3 separate regions of the Homo sapiens genome follow, and all the other regions are linked to region 1. Evidence: fine-mapped expression QTL. A gene starts in region 1. Each other region holds a variant in brackets. All regions are shown on one strand. Distances are between the middles of the regions.

The links. PIP is the estimated chance that this variant, and not a neighbour inherited with it, causes the effect.
Region 2: its variant is fine-mapped to the expression of INPP5D in testis (GTEx, PIP above 0.99).
Region 3: its variant is fine-mapped to the expression of INPP5D in whole blood (INTERVAL, PIP above 0.99).

The regions. Positions count from the first base shown.
Region 1 is chr2:233,058,137-233,063,355 of GRCh38, reverse strand. It overlaps INPP5D (inositol polyphosphate-5-phosphatase D), which reads right to left and starts at 3,014. Exons shown (of 27, transcript NM_001017915.3): 1 at 2,744-3,014. The coding sequence starts at 2,877. RefSeq lists enhancers at 1-83, 96-689, 690-1,283, 2,370-2,459, 3,060-3,339 and silencers at 660-709, 2,780-2,859.
Region 2 is chr2:233,156,674-233,161,892 of GRCh38, reverse strand. It overlaps INPP5D (inositol polyphosphate-5-phosphatase D), which reads right to left. Exons shown (of 27, transcript NM_001017915.3): 10 at 3,474-3,580; 11 at 67-169. Among named protein-coding and RNA genes, the nearest start is that of ATG16L1, 92 kb to the left of the region's middle. The variant C/T (reference allele first, on the strand shown) is at 2,655.
Region 3 is chr2:233,167,004-233,172,222 of GRCh38, reverse strand. INPP5D (inositol polyphosphate-5-phosphatase D) reads right to left here. Exons shown (of 27, transcript NM_001017915.3): 14 at 2,822-2,918; 15 at 2,059-2,197; 16 at 1,619-1,727; 17 at 1,071-1,159. Among named protein-coding and RNA genes, the nearest start is that of ATG16L1, 82 kb to the left of the region's middle. The variant A/G (reference allele first, on the strand shown) is at 2,463.

The DNA of each region.
Region 1 (5,219 bases):
GGGAGGGAGTGCTGCTGGGGCCCAGGCAGGATGAGGTCAGGGCACCTGGGTGATCTGAGGGGCCATGGGGCAGGTATACTTTTCCCATGGACTTTGCTAGGGCAGGAGGGTGAGTGTGTGGCTTCCTTCTGCAGTCACTTCTAGAGCAGGGTGGCTCCAGGCTTCCAGGGCTAGGGGGGCAAAGCCTGCTACTTCTGCAGCCGCAGAAAACCCGGCTGCCCTGCACACCCCTCAGCCTGGGACTGTCTGCCTCTGCCGTCTCCGTCAGGCCACGGCGACTCTGCAGGGAACACAGAAAACTAAGGGTGGTAGGGTTTGTTTTTCAAGAAGTTCAATCTCTTTGCTTTAAATGACTGGCTTTTTTTTTTTTAATGCCCTTCCTGCCTCTTTTGGTGTCAAAGGCTGCTTTCTTTCAAGAAATGAGGTGTTGGAAGATGACAGTTTGTTATCATTCATTTAATTAGTTTTTAGTTTTAAAATCTCCGTAATTGGCAAAATCCAGGGTGGCAGCCATATGAAGCCTGCAGATGTATGGAAAGTCTGCAGGTCCATAGCAACCCACGGCCTACAGTGGAGCCTGACCCTGCAGGAAGGGAAGCTTCCCACCCTGAGCAGAGGAGAAAGGGAAACACTGAGCCCAGGGTTTGTCTGGCCAAGGGGTGGGACTCCTGGTGTTTGCAGCCCAGCAGCCTCAGGATAGGAGGCTGACGAGGCTTCGGCTGAGAGGATAGTGGACATCTGTAGGCACCACAGGTCCCTCTCTAAGGAGCAGACACTGCACACCCATCATGACTCTGAGAGAACTCAGTGCAGACAAGGGTTCAGAGAGAAGAGGTAGAGGAAGGAATACGAGAACTGGCCTGGATCCCAGCAGTTTTGACCCCAGCCAGCATGGTGGACAAAGGCCTCAGGCTCTCTGCCCTCTGTCTACCTCCTGAAAAGCCAGGGCTGTTGCACCAGAGCTTCTCCAAGGCCTCTCCAGCTCTGACTCTGGCTCAGGCTAATCCTAGACGTTAAGATGCTCACGGCTCGGAGTCAGAGAGACCCACGCCCCATGTCTGTAACCTGAGCAACCACAAAGCAAGCCCTGGTCAAAGGGCTGTGTTGAAGGTTAATGAGATGGGGCCCTGGAAGCCCTCGGCTCAGCCAACACCAAACAGCCAGGACAAGATCCCACTGGGCCAGGAGAGAAATCCAAGTAACCCACATGGGCCAGGTGGAGTCAGACTGGGCTTGTGAGAGGCCTAAGAGAATCTTCCTGCTCCTTCTAAGGCCCCGGCAGCAGCAGGTCCCCACTGGGGAAGTCCAGGCAGCCTGGGCCTGCGTTCCTTCCCCTGAGGCATGAGAGAGGGGACACAGGAAACCAGTCTTTGGAGGTGGGGCTGCAGACTGTCAGCACAGGCCAGCGACCAGCTGCGAGCCTGGCTTGGTTTCCAGTGCCCCAGCTGACCCTGTAAACACTGTGGCTCCCCTTGCTTCTTTCTCCAGCCCTGCAAGGCTACATGCCTGCCCCGCTGGACTGGGAGCAGGAGAGGTTGGGCCACAGGCTGCTGGTCTCAGCTGCAGCCTCTGGGGGCAGATGGCCGTGGCTTTGACTGTTGTCACTCACTTAACCTGCCAGGGCCTCAGATTTCTCATCTGCAAAGTGGGGCTTTTAACAGGACCTTCACTTTAGGTTGTGGTGAGGATGAAATGGGCTAACAAATGCTTAGCACGACAGGTCCCAGCTGTGAGTCAGTATTCAAAACAGGTCTGGGTTCATCACCCAATTCCCCTCCTGCCTGGAGAAGCACAAGGCCCTGGCTGCTCGGGGGAACATTTCTGCCAGCCCAGGGATGCTACTTGAGATGTTCAGGTGGACACACATTTCCCTGACTACACTCCGGCACTGCCTGAGGCCCCGGCAAAATGATTAGACCAAGAGCTGCAGGGCAAGGCCCCCCTATGATTAGACCGAGAGCTGCAGGGCAAGGGCCTCCTTCAGACGCTGGACAGGAAGGGGGTTTTAGAAAGGAACCTTCAGCAAGTGGCTGGTTCCTCCATTGTTAGCACAGCTGGTACATTCAGTAACATCCCCAACCGGGCAGTGGGAGGAGTTGATGGTGACAGAGACCCAAATTGAGGGGGTGGGGGGTGGGCAGCGGTCACAGCCAAGTGCTCAGGAGAGAGAAGAGGCTGCTCGCTGGTGGTAATGGTGACTTCCTCTGCTCTCAGGCCCCTGAAAGCAGCTTCTGACTGAATGGAAAGTCCTTTCTTGATTAAACTCACCCCATATTCTTGGCTCGCCAAACAACAGCTTCCTCCAGGGGCCCGAAGCCTGGGTGCTCCAGGAAGGGTCCCCCTTGCCACCTTTGCTCTTCTCAGGGTTTCTGAGCTGGGCATCTTTGAGCTGATCTCTAACACACCCACCTCCACAGAGCCCTGAGCTTCCTCCTGGCTCCAAAAGCCCAAACTCCCTTCTCTCGGTCCCCAGACTCCAAGGAAGCCACAAGGTCCATACAGCTCATGGGAAGCTGGGGTGTAACATCAGGCCTCAGAGTGGTTCTGACAGCTCCAAGGCTGCAAAACCTGCCATGAGACCAGCTCTCTGAACTCCAAGGACAAGGTCCATGACAGGGTGGCGGGGAAGTGTGCATGTCAGATCACTCTGTCCTGTGACATAAGAACAACCCATCTCAAAGCTGGGCCCCCTCTAAGCCCCTCTGTCATATCTGTGCCCGGGGAGGGAGCAGGTTGTACTCACAGCACGCAGAGCGCGTATGCCCGGGAGATGGACTCGCTGGCACGCACGAGGAAGCTCCCGTCCTTGCCTGTCCTGGAAAGCAGCTCCTCCGCCTTGGAGCGGGTGATGTTGCCATGGTTCCAGCAGGGGACCATGGTGGGCGTGGGCCTCCTCGGCCGGGCCGGCAGGCACCCCCAGGACCCACACACCACCGAGGGGAGCGGAGGCCCCTCCACTGCAACCTGCCGCCCGTTGCCTCTTGGTGGCCTCGGCTGCTGCCACCAGCTTAACTGACTGACTTCCTGTTTCAGGCGCTCAGTGAGGGAAAGGAAACTGAGCTGCGGAGAACTTCCTCATTACAGAAACCAAGCAAGAGAGAGAGAGAGAAAGAGAGAGAGGGGGGGGCCCTGGCCGTCCACCGTCCCCTACACCCTGCCACGGCTGCCGCGGCTCTCTTGCCAGCCCTCTCCTTCCTGGCAACTGGTCGCAGCGTACAATTGAAGTGTCCAGTGGCAGCTGAAGTCCCCCTGGGTGGAATGACCGGCTCTGGAGACGTCAGGAGAGTTGTGGCCACTTCTGAAGAAGCATGGCCTAGCAGGCATGGGTGGGCCAGAGAAGTGGTTCTTCTGCGGCCGTGCTGACACCCACGTGGGATGCCATGCCCTAGACAGGCCCCCGAGCCTTCTGCTCTCCCTCAGGGCTTTTCAGCACCCACCCTGAACCTCCAAAACACCCAAGGGGGCACAGCTTCTCAACTGGGACTACGGCCTGCCCAGGACAGAGCAAACTTGAGGGGGAGGGGACAGTCGAGCCCCACCCCTCCCCTTTAGAGACTCCCAGCGGCCTGGGTGCTGGGAGACCTTGGCTGCCACCAGCCGAGGGCGCCAAGGTCCAAGTGATGGCTCTGTGACCCCATTACCCTCATTCCCAGGGGCGGGTGGGTGCTGCACGGGCAGCACAGCTCTGATCCCTGCAGTCCAGCTTGGAGACACACAAAGGGAGCTTGGAGGGGATGTGGGCCGTTTACAGCGGGAACATAGGCTGGGTTTTTCCCTGGGCTTCTCCAGGATGCTGGGGAAACAAGCTCGGAGAGGAGAACCCCAAAGCCCCACAGGGCAGGCTGGCCGCCTGGCCAAGGACAACACTGGGTGCTGAGTCCTGCGTCTCAGCAGTCGGGGTGGCCGGTCGGACTGCACCGCCTCCAAGACTGGGCATGGCCACATATGCCCACCACTCAAAGAGGAGCTGCCTCTCCAGGGACCGCCATCCAGGACCAGTCATTTCTGAGGGCTCTGCGGTGGACACCCATCCCTCAGCCCCCAGACCTGGGCACCTTCCGTCCTTGGGTCCGGCCCACCAAGGCCGAAGGGGCACGTGTTGACCCGCTGCACAAAGAGTGCCCCCACCATCCCACATCCAGGCCTTGGCCTCCAGGACATGACAACAGACTCCCTCCAGGAAGGGGCACCAGCCAGGCAGCGCCACCACATTCAAGCTGTGGGAACCTGGTCAAGTTTCTTCTCTCTCTCGGCCTTGGTTTCTTCTTGTCTAACTTGAAGGACGTAGCTCGTAAAAGAGCTCACATGTGCCCAGGGGCTCAACATGTGTCACACTGATGGTTGTCCCAGAACAGGGCCCCCAGCACCTCCCCGCTGAGCAACACACATGGCAGGCGAGTCTGTAGGGCAGACAAAGCACTCCCAGTCAAGGACCTCTGGCCAGGCTGGGAGCCAGGCGTGGGGATAGAGTGGTGATGGGAACTGGCCTCCATGCTCCGGCCCTTCCGCAGCACGCCACCTCTGCAGCAGCCCAGTGTGGAGGCCTCTCATTCCCCACCCACGCCTCCACTCAGCACCTGTCCACCCCCTCCTTATGGGGTCATCTCCTATGCTCCCATTGTGTACCTTCACACCCTTCTCACTTCCCTGCTGGCCTCCACCAACATCCATGAAGTCCTGGACCACGCCACCAGGAGGATCCATTTGCAATACTGGTCCCTTTACACCTCCACCCACTCATCTCTAGAGACCCCTACCATGCCAAGACTGCCCTACTTAGAGAGCTTCCCCCAAACCCCCAGCCCCCCACCTCTCACACCTCTATTCCCACGGTCCTTGCCATTCCACAGAGTGAGATCCCCTGGCACACACGCCACACGGGCACTCTTCCCTCATTTTTAAGGCCCATCCCAACTTTGCTTCCTTTTCCACCCAATTGCCTGATCTATCCAGCATGGTCAGCTGGCTTGTCCCCCACCCTTCTGCCCTCCACATTCAGGAAATCCCAGTATCTAGATCAGAGCTGCCCTTTTGGTGGGTGGATTTTTTTTTTTTGTAGGTCTCCAGTCAATATAAATAATTTTAACGTATTACAAAATTCACAAACTCATGTGAGGGATAGTGATTTATCAATGAAGACTTCAAATAATGGCTAGAGAGTGGCCAGGCACAGTGGCTAACACCTGTAATCCCAGCACTTTGGGAGGCTGAGGGGAGTG
Region 2 (5,219 bases), 99 kb before region 1:
AGGATGCCTGAGTCAGGAAAGCAGAAGCAGAGGGGGTGACTGCAGGGAGGGGGCGCGCGGACCCACCCATGTTCCAGGTGCCGATGAAGATGGTGATCATGTCGGGCTCCGGCTGCTCTGAGTGCTTGTTCTTCATCTGCTGCAGGAGCTGGCAGAAGCCTTCTCTCTTCTAGGGATGGAAGGGCAGACAGACTTAGAAAGGCCTCTGCCTCCCTGCACATTACACTTTGCAAAGGACTTGGTCAGCTTCAAGAAAACTGAGAGGAGCGTAAATCAGTGTGAACTTCCAGGACAGCAACCTGGAAACATGTGTCCAAAGTCATAAGCGAGTGGCTTCTGGCCTAGACACTCCCCTGCAAAGGTGCGACTTTAACAAAGTGATCAGGAGCTGCGCAGAAGTCCAACCCTGTCACGGCTCTGCAGCACAGGCCTCAGCACAGAAAAAAATCAGAAGCAACCTTACTGTCCAGCCTTAGGAGATTCATTAATAATGTATCAGAGGGCCAGGTGTGGTGGCTCATGCCTGTAATCCCAGCACTTTGGGAGGCCGAGGTGGGTGGATCACCTGAGGTCAGGAGTTCGAGACCAGCCTGACCAACATGGTGAAACTCCTGTCTCTACTAAAAATACAAAATTAGCCAAGCGTGGTGGTGCTTGCCTGTAATGCCAGCTACTCGGGAGGCTGAGGCAGAAGAATTGCTTGAACCCAGGAGGTGGAGGTTGCAGTGAGCCAGGATCGCATCATTGCACTCCAGCCTGGGTAACAGAGCTAGAGTCTGTCTCAAAAAAAAAAAGTATTCTAGACCATCCATAAACTAGAATATCACAGTGTTTAACAAGTGTGATCCAGAACTATCTTGCCAACAAGGACAGGTGGCCACAATATATATTTTTAAGCATGAAAAGCTAGTTGACAAATGATATGAATAGCATCATTGCATTTTTAATAAAACATTTGGGCCTGGCACAGTGGCTCATGCCTGTAATCCCAGGACTTTGGGAGGCTGAGGCAGAAGGATTGTTTGATCCCAGGAGTTTGAGACCAGCCTGGGCAACATAGGGGAACCCTGCCTCTACAAAAAATAAAAAAATTAGCCAGGCATGGTGGTGCATGCCTGTAGTCCCTCCCAACTTAGGAGGTTGAGGTGGGAGGATTACTTGAGGCCAGAAAGTTGAGGTTGCAGTGAGCCATGATCTTGCCACTGCACTTCAGCCGGGGCAACTGAACAAGACCCTGTCTCAGAAAAGAAAAGAAACAGAAAAAGAAAGAAAGAAGGGAAGGAAGAAAGAAAGAGAAAATTAAAAAACATCTGGAAGGGGCATAGTCCCAGATTAACTCATGGTATACGAGTGTTTTTATTTTAAACATTTGCTTGTTTGTGTTTGCCACGTCTTCACCAAGGAGAATAGATTACTTATGTAATGAAAGAACATTTAAATTAAAGAAACTAATTAAAAAGAAGAGAGGACATGAAGGCTTTCATAGCCTACTCAATATTTTTCACGTATTTTTCTGGGGTACCCAGTGGGGCACCAAGCAGCCTCAGTTGGCCCTCTCTTAGGATGCAATCAATAGAGCAGGCGGACTTTAACAAAGTACACAAATTTCAGGGTGTAACATATGACATGACCAGTGTTTGACTGTTTCAACCTGCAAAGACAGAAATTTTACATGATTCAACCTTATAATTGCAAATCTCAGTAAGTCCTCCCTGAAGACACCAGCTCACAAAGATGTCATAATGACCATCTTTACTATAACCTGCCTCGAGTTGGGAGTGGCTCAAGATTCATGGCCTCCATTTATCCCTGTGCCTCAGTCCTTTTGAGGTCGCAGCAATGGGGCAGAGCTGGTGTTTGAACCTATGCCCAGGTGCTCAGAAAGCATTCCAGCCCAGCGGTCTTTCTCTCCATCTCCCACCACCTGTCTGGGCCCCATTCTCTTGTTTCTCCCAGACCCTTCCCTATTATTCCTGACAGCTCTGGACACCTTAGACCTCCCACCAGCCCACCCCTGATGCTTTGGAGGTGAAAGTAGGAGCGGAGACTGGGCACTCAGTGGGAAGCTATCACTGTGGGCCTGCACCAGAAGCGCTTGTCCCTTGGCCTTGCTGGGGGTCCCTGATGTGAGATGTCAGCCAGCACCTGATGTGATGGACACCCTTATTGCGCTGCAATCTTTTTTTTTTTTTTTTTTTTGAGACAGGATCTTGCTCTGTCATCTAGGCTGGAGTGCAGTGGTGTGATCATAGCTCACTGCAGCCTCAAACTCCTGGGTTCAAGCGATCCTCCCACTTCAGCCTCCCAAGTAGCTGAAACTACAGGCTCATGCCACCACACCCAGCTATTTTTTTTTTCGTAGAGATGAGGTCTCACCATCTTGCACAGGCTAGTCTCGAACTCTTGGTCTCGGGCAACCGTCCCGCCTCAGCCTCCCAAAGTGCTGGGATTATGGGCATAAGGCACCCACTGTGCCTGGCCTAATTTTTTTGTTTTGTAGACATGGGGTCTGACTAGGCTGTTCAGGCTGGTGCAATCCATTTTTACTGCCTCACACGAGCTGCATGGCAGAGAACAATGAATGAGGTTCACGATGATAGGTTTTGGCCCTGGTTCAAATTTCTGAGATGAGGGGTCAGGTCACAAAGAACCCA[C/T]TGTGGGGGCACAGAGGCCCAGCCTGGGTTTCCCCAGTGGCCCACAGCACCTCTTACCCCAGGAACCCATCCTGGCAGGGGCATCTCACTTCTGCAGAGCGGGGCAAAGTGTAGAAATGAAAGTCTCTGGGATGGAGCTCCAGTCGAGACTCAGATTTAAATCCAGGGGTGGCTCACACCTATAATACCAGCACTTTGGGTGACAGAGGCGGGAAGATTGCCTGAGCCCAGGAGTTCGAGACCAGCCTGGGAAACACGGCGAGACTCTGTCTCTACAAAATATAAAAAATTAGCTGGTGGTGTGTGTCTGTGGTCTCAGCTACTTGTCTCACCTCAGCTGAGGTGGGTGGGGGGATCCCTTGAGCCCAGGAGGTGGAGGCTGCCGTGAGCTGTGATCACGCCACTGCACTAGCCTAGATGGTAAAGCGAGACGCTGTCTCAAGTCAGTCAGTCAATCAATCAATCAATCAATCCAGGAGTGTCCCAAAGATTTCCCAAGTCCAGCCCAGAGAAGCTGAAAGCCTTTCCCCCAGGTGTGGGGCTGAGTTAGATGTGGGTCATAAAGGATGTGGCCTCGAGGCTGGGAGGCAGCTGGGCAAAGTGGGAAGCCTCCCTACTCCTGAGACAGTGATGGCTCAAATCCAGGCCAACCTGGAACATGATCCTCAACTTCTCTAAGTTCACCTTTCCCAGGTGTGAAATGGGTTGTTCTGGGAACTGAGTGAGCTAATGATACACTCCCTGGCACACAGCGAGCCTCAAAACGCTTGTGTCCCCTCCCTACCTCACAGCCCATTTTAGAAGTTTGCTGTCACTTACTTTGGAGTCAGCAAAAACATATTCCTTCCGCAGGATCTTCTCCTTCTCTGTTTCCACCAAGATCACCAACTTATTCAGAAATTTCTGTGACTTAATGAGCTGCAGGACTTAAGAGAAAAGAAATTCATTAATTCATTCATCCACTCATTCAACCAATATGGACGGTCTCCATTATGTTCCAGGCACCTGACTATCAACTCCCGTCCCCAAGCTGAGCCCCGAGTTTGTGTCTGGTCTCCCAGCTCCCTCTGCTTCCAGCTGCTCTTCCCAAGAGAGGCTCATGCTTGGGGAGGGTGATGTCTGGAACAAGCAAGAGTTGGCCTGTCCAGAGCAGAGACAGCGTGATCGTCTTTTCATCTTTCTCCCTGCCTCCCTCCTTCCCCTCTCTCTTCTTCCTTCTCCTCTTCTTCCTCCTCTTCTCCCTCCCTCCTTTCTTCCTTACTCTTCCTCCTTTCCTTCTTTTGCTTTGTTTTTAATTTATATCTAAATTTAATTTTACATTTTACTGTCATCAACAATTAAAAGAGTCAAGTTGTTCTATAAGGTTTTTGCAAACAATAGTCCTCCACAACCCAACCTCTCTTCAATGTCCAGCTCCCTACAGGCAACCAATTTCAACTCTCTTAATGGATTCTTTTGGAATTCTACTCTGTTTCTTAAAAAAAAAAAATGCTTAGATTAATACTTTCCGATGTTTCAGTTTTCATTATGTCCTATTACATTTTTGACTGTCCACTATGGAAGATGAGGTTGAAATTTCTTTCACACACACAACCTGCTCCCCCAACTTGACTCCCTGCCAATGCATAATTTCAGTCCCCACATCATCCTTCTAACAATTATATCATAATTTTGGCCAGATAAGTACTCAGTGTTTGTTATTCTGATTATCAAAATGCTATTGACAGACCAGCCCTGAATGTTTCTCTTTTTCTAGACAACTTTGTGTTATTCCTGGAGTTAGTAATTGCCATACTTTTTTTTTTTATTGTTTCTAATTCTTCCCCAGTTTATAACTCTCTTTTCCATGTGACCAACTACTTTCATCAGTTCCTTTGTCCTGAGGGAGCCTTTCCCAGAGCTTCTGGGTCTTCTCTGGACTGGTGACTTCAAGGGCCGAGGCACAGCCTTTACCTTGGGGCCTTACTTCATAATCCAGGAATACGTTTCTCTCTCTCGTATTAAATCCCATTTCTTGGACCCCAGGTCTTCCTCTTCTTGGTTTACACCCTCATTTTGGTAGAGCAGCATCTCTAGTGGCTTTCCAAGAAAGGAAGAATCGGTGATACATTTTTAGAGGCCTTGCGTGTCTGAGAATTCGACCCTCACACTTAACTGACAGAACTCTAAATTTGAAATAATTCTCCTCCGGACTCTGGAACCTTGTTCCATCATCTCTAGTTTTCAGGATTGCTGGAGAAACAATGTCATTCTGATTCTCTTGTTCAGAAAAGAGTTAGCACAACAGACCCGAGACTGCTGTCCTTAGAAGGGCTTGCTTGAAAGGCTGGCTTTCTGCTGTCATCTGGGAACTTAGATTTCGGGAGGGCTCCCACCACTCCCAGAGCTGATGAGTGGCTTGCTGTGCCTACATTGTTTGTACAAACAATATGGTTTATGCTGAGCACCTGTTTTCCTTTTGGGAGTCTGTAATCTGGGTACCTGCCAGGTAGAGGGTGTCTATGTGACCATTCGCCAGTTAACAACCACATTTCACACATGTTGTCACACCTCACTGGGGGAGGA
Region 3 (5,219 bases), 110 kb before region 1:
AGCCTGCACAGGGATCCCCAAGGACCTGCTCTGACAGTGCCTTTGGGCCAGGTGACCTTATCCACACAGCAGGCAGTGGACCCTGCGGAATGGGGTGTCCCATCCTGGGGGTCCCAGCCTCGTGGGTGACAGCAGTCCGGGATCTCCTCCTGTCCTCTCAGTTGTATTCTCTTCCTCTCCTGCTCTGTTCTAAAATCCACCCAGCGCTTGGCCTTCCTCTCCCACGTCCAGTTCTTCACTTTCTCCTGAGCCCAGATGGGGCCCAGAACTCTTTCAGATGACACTTTGAACTTGCGCTCCATTGCCCTAGGCTTCTAGTGGGCCTGGGTACCTCACCGTCCCAGCCATTTGACCCTTGAATCCTGCCAGGGGCTGGCTTCCCTGATCCTTCCCTGCCCTGGCATTGTCACATTCTGGCTCTGGCTACAGCTAGTTGCATATCTGTTTTTCCTACTGTGAAGTCCCTGGAAAAGACATCTTTGCTCTCCCATCACCTAGGAGAGTGCCTAACCCATAATAGGCCATCAGGAAATATCTTTGAACAAATGAATACATATTTTATTGCATCTTTCCCCAAAACACTGTTCCTTGGAAAACAAGTGGCCTCATAAGACATTAATTGGTGTTCCATGAATAACTGAGTTTGGCATACAGATTTCCTCATGGAGAACCACAGTGCTCTTGGGCCCATAAAAGCTCTGATAAGTCCTGCAGCGAAGAAACCTGCTTAATGTTAATTCACTCAGCAGTTTAGTAAATATATTTGATCACGGGACTTTAAAAAAATGATCTTCAGAACCCAGTTAAGGAAATAATACTTTAAAGTCCTCTCAGCATCTTAGAGTATCTGGACAGAAGGTAAATCACAAGGGTTATTTTCCCAGCTCAAAGCAGTGCACAAGTGTGGCTTCCCATTTACTCTGTAACACAAATCAACATGTGCTTTCTAATTTTTTTCTTTCCTTTTTTTTTTGCCTAATGGATGAAGACACTTTCTGTTCACCTTTTGGGAACAGACACCAGCGGGGAGGAGATGGAGGGCAGGGAAGGTGTCTATGAAGAGGACTCACCCCTGTCGCTTTCTGCTTGGTGTAGGCGTATTTGTCCCGAGTCAGTCTCTCAAAACGGTAGGTTGGGGCAAACGTGATTTCTTCCTCCTCTGAAACAGAGAGACTTTCGTTTTAATTCTGATTCCCCAGGTTTTGCATCTGGCCAATTTTCCCTATTCTTCTGGTAGGAAATCAGGGGAAAGGGGACGAAAGGATGGCTGGAAAGGCTCCAAGAGGAGAGGCTGCTGCTTTTTTTTTTTTTTTTTTTGAGACGGAGTCTGTCTTTGTTGGCCAGGCTGGAGTGCAGTGGCGCGATCTTGGCTCACTGCAAGCTCTGCCTCCCTGGTTCACACCATCCTCCTGCCTCAGCCTCCCAAGTAGCTGGGACTACAGGCACCCGCCACCACACCCGGCTAATTTTTTGTATTTTTTTAAGTAGAGACGGGGTTTCACTGTGTTAGCCAGGATGGTCTCCATCTCCTGATCTCGTGATCCGCCCGCCTCGGCCTCCTAAAGTGCTGGGATTACAGGTGTGAGCCACCGCTCCCAGCCGGGGTTGCTGCTCTTACCGAAGTGTAGGAAGACCTTCTGCTCCCTCCTCTCTGTGAGCAGCTGGTCGTGGGACAGGAGGTCTGCGTACTGCTGCTGCTTGATTTTCTGGATGATGGTTTCTGCCTCCTGGAACAAGAACATGCCCGGGCCTCTGGTGAGAAGCCCTGCTGATCCAGGCCTGACAAGCTTCGGGGCTGGGGGCGGGCAGCTGGATGACCCGGGCTGCAGAGTGATGGTGGCAGGGTGGCTGTGACAGTTATGGGAACCGGGTGTGAGCACAGGGGAACCGTGAGGAGCGGCTGAGGCTCAGTAATGGAAACAGCGTTGAGCCCCCAAGGGGAGCAGCCGCCTCAGCCCACTTGATTCACATGTCTCCACGACCACCTGCCCCAAGCTGACTCAAGGGAGCCTCCATCTCATACAGCCCCAGCCCCAGCCCCAGGCGGGCAGCCCTTACCCAGGTAGGCAGATCCACACGGTAGTTAAGATCCCCAAACCAGAAGAGGTGCGTGAAGCGGTGAGTGATGTTAAAGGGACTCAGCTTCTTGTCGCCCAGGGCCAGGAACCGGAGAATGTTCATATAGTTTTGGTTTCGCCTAATGCAAGGAAAAAGCGGCCATCTAGCACGGGGTCACTGGTTCCCCCTCCACTGTGGCAGGAAGTCACTCCTGCCATAGGTGTGGGGCGAGGAGCATAGCAGGTGGGGGGAAGTGAGACTTAGCCCTCCAGCCCTGCTGCAGCAGAACTCCTTAGTGTGCAAATATGGCACAGCCAGGATGCAAAGGGCATTTGAGGCCACATTGGGTGTACAGAGGGCAGGGGACCAGGAGCAGCAGCATCTGCTCAGCAGAGAATCAGAAC[A/G]GTGAAGATTCTAGATGGCTGTCTTCATTCCTGGGCCCCAGCTAGGCAAGATCAGCTTGGATTTGTAAGGAGGCCCCAGAGGAGGCTTTCTGCTTTAGAAACAGTGCTAGTTAGCGGTCCATCAGGCTAATGACACAAGGAAATATCTTTTCTGACCTTCAGACAAAATTCCTCCACACGTGAGGTCACTATGGTGCTGCAGTTGCCTTTGATGAGACTGTGGTGGGCCCTGAAAGGCCACAGGACATCCACAAGGTCAAAGGCAGGAGCTGAGCAGGTCCTTCTGGTGCTTAAAGGTGTGAGGCGTGTCTGGGCAGACAGCCCAAATGCACACTCTTGGGGGGAAGGAGTTCCATTACCTGAGTTTCTTTTCACTTCCTGAAGTCAAGTGGCTGTTGACGAACCCTAAGGAGGTTCCATTGAACATGAACGACACCCCCACGGCTCCCTTGTTCCCTAAAAAGAAGAGCAGAAAGAAGAATCAAAATATCAAACAGACACACTTGCCAAGGGGCCAGAAATCACCCGAAGGCAGGGTGAGAGGGGCAGTGAGTGAGGAGCTGGCAAGGGATGGGCGAAACAGGGTCGTGCAGGGTGGGAGCCGCTGGGCAGAGAGCGGGAGATGAGAAAATGCAGGAGCAGTGCAGATGGCGGCAGCCTCAGCCTTCTCGGCGGGGCAGAGGAAGGTGGCTGCTGCGATCCTCCCCCGGCATCTCTCTCTAAAGTGACCAGGGTGCTAAGCGGGCAGCCAGAAGCCCTGGGAAGATTCAGAAGGTTCCAGCCTGGGTGGGCTGATCTCCCTCCCAGTGAACTCAAGTTTCCTGGGGAGACCAAAAACCCACACTGAGATCATACCTTTTTCTGCCAACGTTCTGATCTATTCTAGGTCAGTGGTTCCCAAAGGGAGTTCCCTGGACCAGCAGCTGCACATCACCTGGGAACTTCATGGAAGGGCAGATTCTCAGCCCCACCCCAGACCTACTGAATCTGAAATCCTGGGATGGGGCCCAGTAATCTGTGTTTGACAAGCCCTCCAGTGTCAGGGGTGGGCAAATGCTGGCTCACTGCCAGCTACAAATGGTTTTACATTTGTAAATGGTTGGAAACAAATCAAAAGAAAAACCATCTTTTGTCATTCATGAAAATACGAAATTCAAATTTCAGTGTTCGTAAAGAACACGTTACTGGAACACAGCCATGCCTATTGACTTCTGGATTGTCTGTAGCTGCTTTCAGACTACGATGGCAGAGCTGAAGCATTGTGACAGTTGTGTGGCCCAAAGAGCCTAGAATATTCACCATCTGGCCTTCTATGGAAAACGCTTGTTAACCCCTGCTCTAGGTGATTCTGACACATGCAGGTGAGAACCTGCTCTGTCCAATACAGGCACAGGCCACATGTGACTATCAAACACCTGAAATGTGGCTGGTACAAAATGAGACAGGTTGTGAGTGTAAAATACACATTGGAATTGTGGCCTTGGTAAGAAACACAGACTGTAAAATATCTAATAACCTTTTACATTAAATATCTATTGAAATAATTGTATTTTGGATGTATGAAATTCAATAAAATCTATTATTGAAATTAATTTCACTTGTTTTCTTTTTAATGTGGCTACTAGAAAATTTGATCTATTGATTGTAATAAATCAAATTGTAATCTATTTTGATCATAAATCTATTTATTTATGATCTATTTGGCTCCCATCATTTTCTTTTCTTCCTTTCTTTCTTTTTTTTTTTTTTTTTTTTGGAGACAGAGTCTCACTCTGTCTCCCAGGCTGGAGTGCAGTGGCGCGATCTCTGCTTACTGCAACCTCCGTCTCCCAGGTTCAAGCAATTCTCCTGTCTCTGCCTCAGGAGTAGCTGGGACTACAGGCACCCACCACCACACCCAGCTAATTTTTTGTATTTTAGTAGAGACGAGGTTTCACCGTGTTGCCCAGGTTGGTCTCAAACTACTGAGCTCTGGCAATCTGCCTGCCTCAGCCTCCCAAAGTGCTAGGATTACAGGCGTGAGCCACGGCACCCGGCCCCATTTTCTTTTGGTTGGACAGCTCTGGATAGGCCATAGGCTGAAGGGACCCCTGGATATCACCTGGCTCAACCTTGTCAGGACCCAGTGGGGGAGTACACAGGCTTTCTGCCCTCCAGCCCTCTCCACTGCACCTAGCTCTCCAGCCCTGCCCCTCTGCCCGCAACCTGGGAGGGTGACCTGGAACTGAGCAACTGGTTCCAGTCCCGACAGCCTGGTTTCAATCCCTGCCCACCACATTCTTATCCCGGGGCCTTGGGCAAGTTATGGATCATCTCCATAGACTCTGTTTCTTCATCTGCAAATGGGAATAATAAGAGTCCCTGCCCGAGTGTTTGTATTTTTTTTTCTAATTTGAGACAAAGTCTGTGTCGCCCAGGCTGGAGTGCAGTGGCAAAATCATGGCTTTCTGTAGCCTTGACCTCCCAGATTTAAGTGATCCTCCCACCTCAGCCTCCTGAGTAGCTGGGCCCACAGGCATGCACTACTATGCCATTTTTTTTTTTTTTTTTTTTGTAGAAATGGTACCTTCCTATGTTGCCCAGGCTGGTCTCAAACTCCCGGTCTCAGGAGGTCCTCCCACCTTGGCCTCCCAAAGTGTGGGATTATAGGCATGAGCCATCGTGCCTAGCAGGGTGTTTATATCAAATGAGATGATTCAAAGCATTCAGCACACAGCCTTGCTTAGGGCACACTCTTAGAAAGGCCTTGGTTGTTCT